Regions from separate parts of the Homo sapiens genome. Here region 1 is linked to region 2. The links come from fine-mapping of genetic effects on gene expression. A gene starts in region 2. The other region holds a variant in brackets. All regions are shown on one strand. Distances are between the middles of the regions. Region 1 overlaps BMPER (BMP binding endothelial regulator). Region 2 holds the start of BMPER (BMP binding endothelial regulator).

What was found. PIP is the estimated chance that this variant, and not a neighbour inherited with it, causes the effect. A credible set is the group of variants that fine-mapping cannot tell apart.
Region 1: its variant is the best candidate, but not a certain one, in a credible set for the expression of BMPER in cerebellar hemisphere (GTEx, PIP 0.79).

Annotation. Positions count from the first base shown.
Region 1 is chr7:34,066,153-34,071,530 of GRCh38, reverse strand. All of the region lies in intron 11 of BMPER (BMP binding endothelial regulator), which reads right to left. Among named protein-coding and RNA genes, the nearest start is that of BMPER, 160 kb to the right of the region's middle. The variant T/ATTTGT (reference allele first, on the strand shown) is at 2,960.
Region 2 is chr7:33,902,942-33,908,319 of GRCh38, reverse strand. BMPER (BMP binding endothelial regulator) reads right to left here and starts at 2,781. Exons shown (of 15, transcript NM_001365308.1): 1 at 2,574-2,781; 2 at 1,417-1,502. The coding sequence starts at 2,706.

The DNA.
Region 1 (5,378 bases), 160 kb before region 2:
AGTTAACCTGGCTTCCAGCTTTAAAGCCTCCTTGGAGCTTGGCAGTCATTGAGCATATTATTGCTTTGAAGAGTCTTGTGTTTGAATCCTGATTTTGCCACTTAAGGCTTATAAAATCATGCACAAACTACCTACATAACCTCAATTTGTTTGCCTATAACATGACTCTAAGAACAATTACCTTGCCGGGTGATTATAAAGATAGCATTGCAAAGCTGCCTAGAACATAAGAGATACTCAGAGTAGTCATTATTCATTTGCTTATTATAAATGTTATGCAAGTCTAGCAAATAGTTATCTAGTGCTGGCTAAAATGGGGTTGAGTAAGACTGTAATGAACTTAGAAAGTATAGATTTGTTGAAAAGACAATGTAAATTGAGGTAGTCTATAAAAGACATAAAATACAGATTTGGGGCTAGAATGAAGTAAGCCTTCTAGGCCAAAAGAAGAATGTAAATAAAGTCATGGACATAGATAAGAGGGCAGCTTATACAAGAAGAGCAGGAGGCCAATCGCACCAGAGTGCAGAGCTGCTTCGGGAGATACAAGACACCCAAGTTGTCTAAATAAATTGGCCTGAGATTTACTGCCAGCCTGAGAAGTTTAAATGTATTCCAAACAACCAGCATTTCTTGATGTGTTTCCTGTGAAACATCAATCCTGCCTGTTGCTCTGCCAAAATAAGTAGAAATTAAAAAAAAAAAAAAAAAAAAGCTCTGCCGCTCAAATTAGTTTGGGAGGCACTCTATACTCCAACCTCTTTCACCATGCACGTCAGCATATTAAGGGCTCTGAGAATTCTGCAGTAAGAAAACACATTTAAGTTTACTTGACCCAGCATTTCCTGAGTGTATTTAATCACAGAACCTTGTTTTGAAAATATTACTCATCATTATCCCTCAGCACTAGTGTTTTATAAAACAAACTCTGGGAAACCGCAAGGGAAGGAAGCTGGTGTAGGTTTCTGTGAAAGCTAAGTTTGGGTTCTGACAGGGGTGTGCAAAAAGGGGTGAAGGAGAAGAGAGATGGAGATTACATGCAAGCAATAGGATGAGTGTCCGGCTGCCATGGGAATGGCAAGGAAAGTATTTATTTGAAAAACATCACAAAAAGACAATCAAGCAAACCTGATGATTGATTAGCAACATGGGGGAGAAATGCCAAAAGTATGAGAAATAACATTAAGGCTCAAATCTTGTGCAGCTGGGATATGGGGGTGCCAGAATTCAGTCAACAAACAGGGATTGGAAACAGCCATTAGCCCCTCCATCCAACTCCCAGCTCAAATAATTGGGGGAATCAAAGGTAGAAACTATTAACAAAATTCAAATGCAATACTTTGAAAGAACATGTTCTCCAAGAAGCTGAGATCTACTACATTAGCATCTTGTTAAGAAGTGATATGTTAAGGACCTCAAAGCTTAAACAAATCTGAAACCAGAGTGAGAAAGTACAGAAAGGGCACCATGAAAGTGGAGCTGTGGGTTTACAAGATGAAAAAGCAAAAAGTAAAACAACAGATACTTGCACTAAAGAAGGATATGGAAAGTCAGAGAAGAGGGGTGTAGCAATGAATGAGGGCAGAGAGTACTAACGCGGAAGGGAACAGAGATAAGAAGAAAGAATGACAGCATTCATGAATATGAATTTCACATCAAAGGGCCATGCAAAGCACAGCTAATGAGTCATCTCTCCATACTCCCAGCAAAGGTTACAACTGAAGTATTGTAACCTAAGAGACTGAAGAGGTTAAAGTGACCTCATAAATGTAGGTACATTTTTAAAAAGTAAGTAAATACAACTGCTTGTAAGTAGAAGCCACTAGTCATGTATAAAAGAAAGTAACTGGCAAACCTCATATCTGTTTGGAAGTGAACCTCCAAAATGAATACAAATGTAGTCAATAGAGAACAGAGAATAGTGCATAAAAGTTTGGGCTTTGGAGTCTCGTAGGCCAGTGTATTAGCTGACCACAAACTATTTAATTTCTTTCACCCTCAGGCTAATGACAGCTTCTAATTCATAGGAACATGGTAAGGATTAAATGGCAAAATGGAGAGCATTTATCACAATACCTGACTGATATGGACTAATGTTCAATAAGTCGCTGTTAGTTATAGGAGCAATTGCAGAGGCAGCAGAAGTAGCAATTTTTGTTGCTTTTATTTTGCTCATAGGAGATGTGACCTCCAAAGAGGAATAAATCTGCCTCAGCTCTGCATATAGTAATGTATAATTAGTTATACAGTACTTCCCACCAAGTGTATTTTTTAAGTTTCACAGCTTGGGGTTTCTATTGTTCATTTGTTTTGTCGTTTAGCTGTATTTTAGGTGTATCATTACCAAGGAGTTTCCGTCACACATACCCTCAGTCAAAACTGGATACTTGCAATTTTCCTGAGATTCAACATGGCAGCCTTGGCTACATTGTACCAGATGTCTAATAATGAATTCGCATATCTTTTTCTATATAAAATGCATTCTTTTGAAATTAAGCAAGAAACTAGCTTTTAATTGAACTATGTCATAATGCTACACCTATATTAAAAATAGCTTTCCCAAGCAAAAATCCAGGGAGGCCTGTAGAATGAATACTGGATTAGGAGATTTTTAAAAATATGCAAGTCCTCATCCCAGCTCATTCAGTTAGTACTGCTGTGAGTCTCAGTTTCCTCACCTGTGAAGTGAGAGGTCTAACCTCATATTAAGGTCCCTTCACTTACAAATTTCCTGATGCTAAAATGGTGATGAGCTCCAAAGGCAGGGCAACTCTGCTCTTACCCATTCCTGGTGGAAATTATATACAGAGTTATTTCAAGTTCAAAACTATGTGTACTTAAAAAGAAAATTTGGGGAGATCTTCACTTGACCCCAGTAACTTGAATTACCACGAGAAAAAAAAACTGGAAAAACTAGTAGACATGGAAAACAAACAAAATGGAAAACCAAGCCAGTTTG[T/ATTTGT]CAGTGAGCTCAGAGCATACCAACCACCACTTCTCTGTACTTGAGCAGAAAGACGGAGATGCCACAGTAGAAGAAAGCCTGGGGACTTGAGTCTCCATTTCCAACCAGGTGTGGTTGGAGGGACAACACTGTTAATTGGAAATTCCTCTTAAGGTCCTTCGCCAGTCTCCAATGCTTACAAGTTGTAAAGCCCTCCAGACCTTCTCTTCCCCTTCTTAACTTCAACTGGTTATCAAACTGTACAAAATGACAAGGAAGCTAAGGGAAGTAATTCCAGACCAAGCTTTCGGGCCAGCTACCTGGTTGGAATTCAGGCTCCACAACTATCTTGAGCGTCCTTCTTAACCTCTAAGCCTCAGTTCCCTCAACTGTAAAATGGAGCTAACAGCACTATTTGACCACAAGACGGCTGTGATAATCAAATGAAACCAAATGAGACTGCCCAAGATAGTGTTTAGAGACGGCAGATGCCAAATAAATATTAGCTGCTGCTGCTGCTGGTGGGTACTACTGTTGTTATTATTGCTATTATTGTTATCTGTGGATGATGATGGTGGTGATTGTTAATTCATCAAATAATCACTTATCAAGGACTTACTGAGTACTAACACCCTGTGGGAATTGACAATAGGTGGTAGAGAAAAGGTGATTCCTAATAACTTCAGTCTCCTTCAACTCTGTACTAATTTACAGCAAGAAAAATTAAAGTAACAGTATCCCTTAGAGCAGAACAGCATATAAAACAGAAGACAGACTGATTTCCTCATGCTCCTTCCAGCGTGGCTTCTACCGGTGTGGGATCTCCCAGCCACCATGTGTGGTACAGTGGGTTTTATTTGCCACCCCTGTCTGCTGTTTGGGCCTGAGGAACAGTGTCAAGCCCGACTCCAGATGCTGGAGCAGAAACTTCAGTGGCCACTTAGGTTAACACCTCCTTGGCAGGGCTAAAGTCAACACCACAAATTCTTATTCTACAAGCATCTTGAGCTCTGGTTTCGAATTTCCTTGCTTTCCTGAGTTAAGGACAGACTCTCGGTGTTAAGGGACCTGGAGTTGCTTACAGCCCTGGAGGCCAGAAACCTTGCTCAAACACAGAATCACTAATTTGCAGAACCTCTGTCAGTGGAGATTTCTCATAAAATGGGCCCCTAGGTTGCTGTTTCATTATGGTTTTTTTTCTAGGGAAATAAATGAAATTGTTATTATAGTCTCCCCCTCCTACAGCCATTCTGTTAATTGGAGCTACCTGTACGCATCCCAGAGGGCTTACATCAGATGTGCCAAAACGAGTGGCTGTGGTGGGTGTAGGCAGCAGGCAGGGCTCCTAGGAGAGCAGGCACACCAATGCAGCCTGCACACAGCTGGAAACCAACCCTGGGGGGTTTAAAAAGTCACCTGGCAACTGTGAGCCTCCTCTCACCATGAGCTGCTGAAATTTGATATTTCCTGTTACTTCTGGGACATGTAGTTGAGGTTATTTCAATTAAATGCACATCTGTGCTCGGCATATTCAATCAGCCTCAGTGTTATGTAATCGTGAACTTGTGTTTTAAGCTGGGATTCTGATGGTTAGGTCTGATGTAGCTACAGGTACAGCTTAATGAACCACCAGGGACTGGGCATGCACGTCTGGGCTGCCTTTGTCTCTGCTTTTGTGGATGGCTGAGAGATTAATTTTCTCATATACTCAATCTGTCAATCTCAGTCTCTCTCTCTCTCTGCCCCTCCCTCCATCCCTCTCTCCCTTTCTTTCTCTATACACATCTCACATGCACCTTTCTTATTAGTGACAACTTTGACCCTATGTATTATTTCCATGTTAGAAAACAGATATCCTGCCAGCAAAGAATTTATCTGATTCAGGTCTCTGTTGGGTGGTTAGGTCAAGATTCCACCTGCTATTTGCCAACACACAGTAAAACAACATTTTGCATAAACAAAATGCTACACACAAAACAGGCAAGTGGCCTCCCTGGCACCTACCCTGTGCTCATGTGTGCCCAGCCGAGGCAAGTCCAGATTGGCTTAAGGCTAGAGTCTCACACTTTGGCAAGAAACAGCATTTGCAAGAAAGCTTTATGAAGTTTGTGTAGCCCACTTCAAATATTTTGTTTTAAATAAATCATCAAAATCAAATCTAATTCTTTTCAGTTGGAAAGGGAGAAAGAGAGCCTGTTCCATGTTATGAAAAGACAGCAATGCTTTTCATACTTCCCTCAGGTCTGATTTTAAGAGGACTTTTGTTCTCCTATTTTGAGAGAATCATCATTGCTCCTTCAGGCCAACCCTACAAAAACTGTCTTACTGTGGGGAGGACAACGGCATTGTGCCTCCTCTATTATTTCTTACCTACAAAATTGTAAATTACCATTACTGCTGACTGTTGTAAGGAGAGGCCCATAAGAATGTTCTATAGATG
Region 2 (5,378 bases):
CACATTTAAATATTACTTGGTCAAGGTAATTTCCTCTGAAATCTTAATAGATTAAGATAAAATAATTCACTCACATTACACAGATAAGAAAAATAAAAAAGGAAGATTAAACACACATACACACACACTGCATTTGTAAATCTACAACTGAGTCAAAATTTAAACTGAAAGCTTCTTTTCAACAAATTATTTACTAAAAGATCATCAATGAACACAGCAACCCATAAATATGCAATCATAATACACCCTCTCTCAGCTCTGTTTTATTAGGCAGCAATATTTATTGTGTCAGCAAACGCAGTGCGTTTTTACTTGTTTCTGTTGATTTCCTTAGTCTTCCGAACCTGATAATTGTTTGATACAGCCATTTACCTTCACCCATTTATCACTTCAAAACATTGACCTCAACTCTTGTCATGAAAAAATTTATGTAGTATAAACTCAGATAGCTTGGCTTTTGCCTAAACCGAAATGAATTCCTTCTCCAGCGCCACACAGCATGCTGATCTAGCAACAAGTAGTCCTCTATCATTCTGGGGCTTTGCATTTGACTGCCTTAATGTATTTCCAACAAGGTTTTATAATGTGTAGTTTCTAACCAAATTTTGCCAAAAGTGATTGGCATGTAAAACACTCCTAAGCAAAAATGTTTACCTTGTAGGTCTATATTTCATCTCAGAAATTCTTATTCACATTACTTAATCTCCCCCAAGTGGTTACTTATTAGACTTATCATTAACTACTAAACTAAAATAAATGGAAACAAATTATTTTTTGAGTCTTCTAACCACTGATAGTGTTAACTAAGCAGCTGACAGCCAAGTGTCATTCTCTATTAAGGATGGAATTGTCCTTTCCGACTCATGCTTCCAAATCAGAAATAAAGACAGTATTTGAGGGTTTAGGGTATAACAGGCAAAGAAACCCGAGAAAGAAATCCAGAATTACATCTTGTCCTTATGTTTGTTTTTTGTGGCTGTCACCTCTCTTTCCCTTTGTCGCATACCTTATTCCTGACCTTCATACTTAAATCTTATCTCATCATTTTCCCACTGAGCTTAAATGACAGAACCAACGCAGAAAGTTTTGTTGTCCCAAGAATTTGGTTGTAGTAATCATTACTGGAAACAGACATTACAAACTGTCATTTCACCGAGACGTCATACAAAGCCTATCTGAAATTTACGTCTATAAGGATGATGTCAAAGATAAGAATTTCCAGCTGGATGAAATGGAAATTGCCAAAGTCCATAAAACTCAGAAATTAACTGGATTCAACTCACAAACTATGTACAGTTATGTGCAATTTTGTAATGATAAAGACAATTTGTAAGATCTGGTTATATTATCACATTTAATGGATTCACCTTATCAGAGAGAGCAGTTGAGTTCATATTACCTGATCTCCACACTTACCAAGCAGACACACATTATGCAAGGGTTGTCTGTGATAAATGGAATCTGGAGGACTTCACCTTCATTTTCACATTTTGCAACAGAACCTGAAATTCAGGGGGGAAAAATGTTTCATTTAAAGTTAGCTTAGCAGCATGATTTCAACATTTAAAATTTTTACACTAATCCTTTTTGAAACCTCTACCCAAACTTCAGAATTCTTAATGTGGTTTAAATTATTAAATTCACCAAAGCAAAACCTCTGCCCCCAACTCCATTTTCAATAATTTTATTTAAACAGGTTCAAAAAAGAAAAGACTATGATATAGGGATAAATTATCTGTTCTCAGATGGTCTAAGCACAATTCCAAGTATTTCACTGGATTTTTAATAACACTCCTCCTTTATGAAGATATTTCAACTAAGCACACAGCCCCATACGCAAAGAAAAAAATAAAAAATAAAATTTAAAAAAACCCTCAAATTGGGGCAGATTTTAAATTGACCAAAACTCAGAACTGAGTCAATAAACAGGCCTTTCTATGAATCTGTCTCGCATTGTCTTAGGTTTAAATCACTTTTTGAAACGCAATCCCCTTTTCCCTTCTCTTAGAAATTGACTCCATATTTTCTTTTCTGCACCAGGTGTCAGTAAAGTATGTCCTTCAGAATAGCAGCTGAGGTCTTCACCTGCCTGAAAACATATAATTATTATATCCGGCTATTAGTGCCCTTTTTAAATGATAGTTTCTTTAAATTCAAGGTCTTGAGAGCCAGTGCTTTAAAAAGCACTCCTAGCACAGTGGATGTATTGCAACCCCAAAGATGAGAAAGGAAGATGTGCGGAAAACTGCACAAATTTTTTTCCTGAGTTCTACAGAGGGAAAGATTAAAATAAAAGTTGAGGAAAGCATTAAAAATAAATAAAATAATTTCTCAAATTCAAATAGAAGAATGTCTATTATTACTACATTGAAGGCAACAGCCTCTCAGCCCGCAACCTCTTCACCAGCCTTCCCAGCCCTCCCGGGGCTTCGCTTCATCCCCATCGACCAGCGCAGGGCAAGCGCCAAGGTGCGCGCTCCCCACCCTCCCATCCCCGGGGCAAGCCAGCGCCACCTTTCCCAGGTACCAAACCGGCGTCCCGGAGGGCCGGTCCCTCCCGCCCCCTCCCCTACCTGTCAAGAAGGAGGAAGCCAGAGACATGGGGACCCCCGAGCAATTGAGTAGCAGCAAGACGCAGCACGTAATCCCAGGCGAGCGGCGGCAGTAACGCTCAGCCAGAGCCCCGACGCCGGAGAACCAGAGCATCGTCACCTGGAGGGAATCCCTGGCGACTGCAGGTCCCGCGCCGCCGCCTCTGCTCAGCTGCCGCAGCTCACAGTCGAAAAGGGCTCTCAGCCGGCGTGTCGGGAGACCGTCCGCGAAGGAGGGAGGCGGGCGCCCGAGAGCTGGGGGGCGGGGGGGTGTGAGGGAGGGCGGGGGGAGAGACCAAGGTGTGGGGGCGCCCGGGGAGGAGGGGTCCTGCGGCCAGGCTCCTCCGATGCGGCTTTTTTTTTTTTTTTCCTGAGGGAGTTGCTTGCAGTGGCTTAGCAGTCAGCCCCTCAGCGCCGGAGAGGGGGCCAGGAGGAAGGGGTGTTGCGGCAGCCGGAGATAGACTGAGAGGAGCTGCGGCGCTGCCGACTGCGCACTGCCGCTCAGCCGCCGCCCGGGCTGCCGCTACTGTTTCGGGGGCTGTCGCTGTCGCTGCCGCAGCGTCCTCCACTCCCGCACTCCTCACCTCCTGCCAGCCCCGCCGGCTCTCGGCCCTCCCGGAGCGCGCTCGCTCCGCCGCAACAGACGTGGGCTCACCGGGCGCCTCCCGGAACCCGCTGGGGGCGCCCGGGCGCAGGAGGGACTGCGCGATAGCTGCAGCGGGAACTCTCTCGGCCCAGCTTCCAGTTCCCCAGCCCCTCCAGGGAGGCCAGGGCCCCAGGGCGCGGACCAGAGCCGAGAAGGCGCGTCTCCACTGTCCGGGCGAGCGCGGCTCCTCCTCCCTTTCTTGGGGGAGCCCCGGGGATGCCGCAGCACTAGCGCTCAGGCCCGGGTGCCCCAATCCAGCGAGGGAGCAGCAAACGGGACGCAGGGGCGCCCCACCACCCTGCTCGCTCCCGGGTGCCCCACCTTTGGGAAGGAGCGACACACCCGGGGCAGTAGGGCCCCCGCAACTTTTCATGCCCTGCTTTGCTTCCCTCTGGCGGGGGCGCGACAGCGAACTCAGGGGGCTGAGCGGACAGAGGGGCAAGTGGCCTTAGAGATGTGTTCTGTGCTTAGCTGTCTGCGCGTCCTGACACTAGGGATGACCGAAGTTGAAACACACACAAGGTCGATTTAAAAACGTACCGAGGCAAACGCCTTTCGTCCTTAAAAAATGAACAGTCGCTCCGAGACTCCTCCCTTCCAATCTCGGGCGGACCGGGGCGGGGAGGTGGTGTTTGACTAATCATTCATTCACCCGAAAAGAGGGAGGAACCCCCGCCCCACCGCTCATCTCTGGCGGGGGCCGCCGCGCGGCGGCCTCTGCAGCTCGGAGCTCCGTCGCTCTCTCAGCCCGGCTGCGCCCTCTCGCCTCTGCAGCACTGGGTGTCGGGGAGTCAGCTCCTGTGATCCCCCTGCTGAATCGCCGCCTCCTCCCCACGCAGTGGCACCCTCTACTCAAAAGGGGTGCAATCGCAGAGAGATGATTTTTGTAACCAAAGTACGAAGGCGCGAGGTGGGAGTGAGGGACGCTTGGCAAGTGTTGGGACCTGACGATCAGCTAGCTGTCCTTGAGCTCACGGTGGACTACCGACTTCCTCTGTCCAAGAGTTGAAACCGGGTCCCCACGGAACGGACCTAAGGGTCTCCAGGCAAAGTGGGTTGTTTCCATTGTGGAAACTACAGCTTTGAAAATAAATGAGTCTGTTTGCTGACAGGTTTAATCTAGCTTCACCTTAACCCTTCCCTGCCTCGTTGACTGTTTATTCGTTTTTTCGAGTGATTTGGAGACTTCACTTAATTAGTGCAACATTGCCAACATCGCGACACACCGAGGAGCTGATGCGAGCACGTTGCTGTGACGTGGGAAAAATAAGAGAAGGGAAAACTGTCATTAGCTTAGCATGCTCCATTTCCCTCCCAAAATAGATTCTTACCGTAAAATTTAAATTGAAAGAGAAGGCTGATGTGTGATTCCTTCCCTCCCTCCCCCCACCCAAATAAAGCCATGGCCAGGCAGCTTCTCGGAAACCAGTGTGTTTATGTATTTACTAATCATAAAGATAATATGCAAAAAGAGAAAAATCTCTAAATCCAGCCTTACTTCCCAGGGACTCATTAAAAAATAAATAAAATTAAAATTAAAAATTAAATAAATAGAAACCTTTATTGCTGCAGATAAGTACAATCAGTTGGAACCACTATCTCCTCTATCTAAAAAGATTGTCCCTGGATGAGGCTTTTAGATAAAGTTGTTTATCATAATTTAATTATGGAAAGCTGAAGAATAAGGAAGCTGGGAGACCTTTTGTTGCCTTAGCCATAAATTTGGATAAATGCATGCTATGAAATTGCAAGACATTTGAAGGGTGTGCCTGAGTTACTTTGATATGCCTTCCCTCCCTGACACCAGCCAAACATCCTCAGAATTTGCATGACAAATTTCTTTATGATAGAATCTAGCTGTGTGTGGCATTTCCATAATGTGCAGCATGGTGCTTTGGAATGCACTGGAACTCTCCCTGTAGGTGCAAACCCAAAAACCACCTTAAAAACATTTTCATCTGTCTGAAAGTTTGCGAAGGGGAAAAATGCACAGAAGCCTTTGGCAAACCTGTCTCTTCTTCCTGTTTGTTATAAGCCTCTGCCACCAGCGATTTCCCTTGCTGCCTTCTTGGCAAATGGGCCCTGCTTCCGAAAGAGCAGCCTTTTCTCCAAGGCCTTATCAAGATGTTTTCCCATGCATC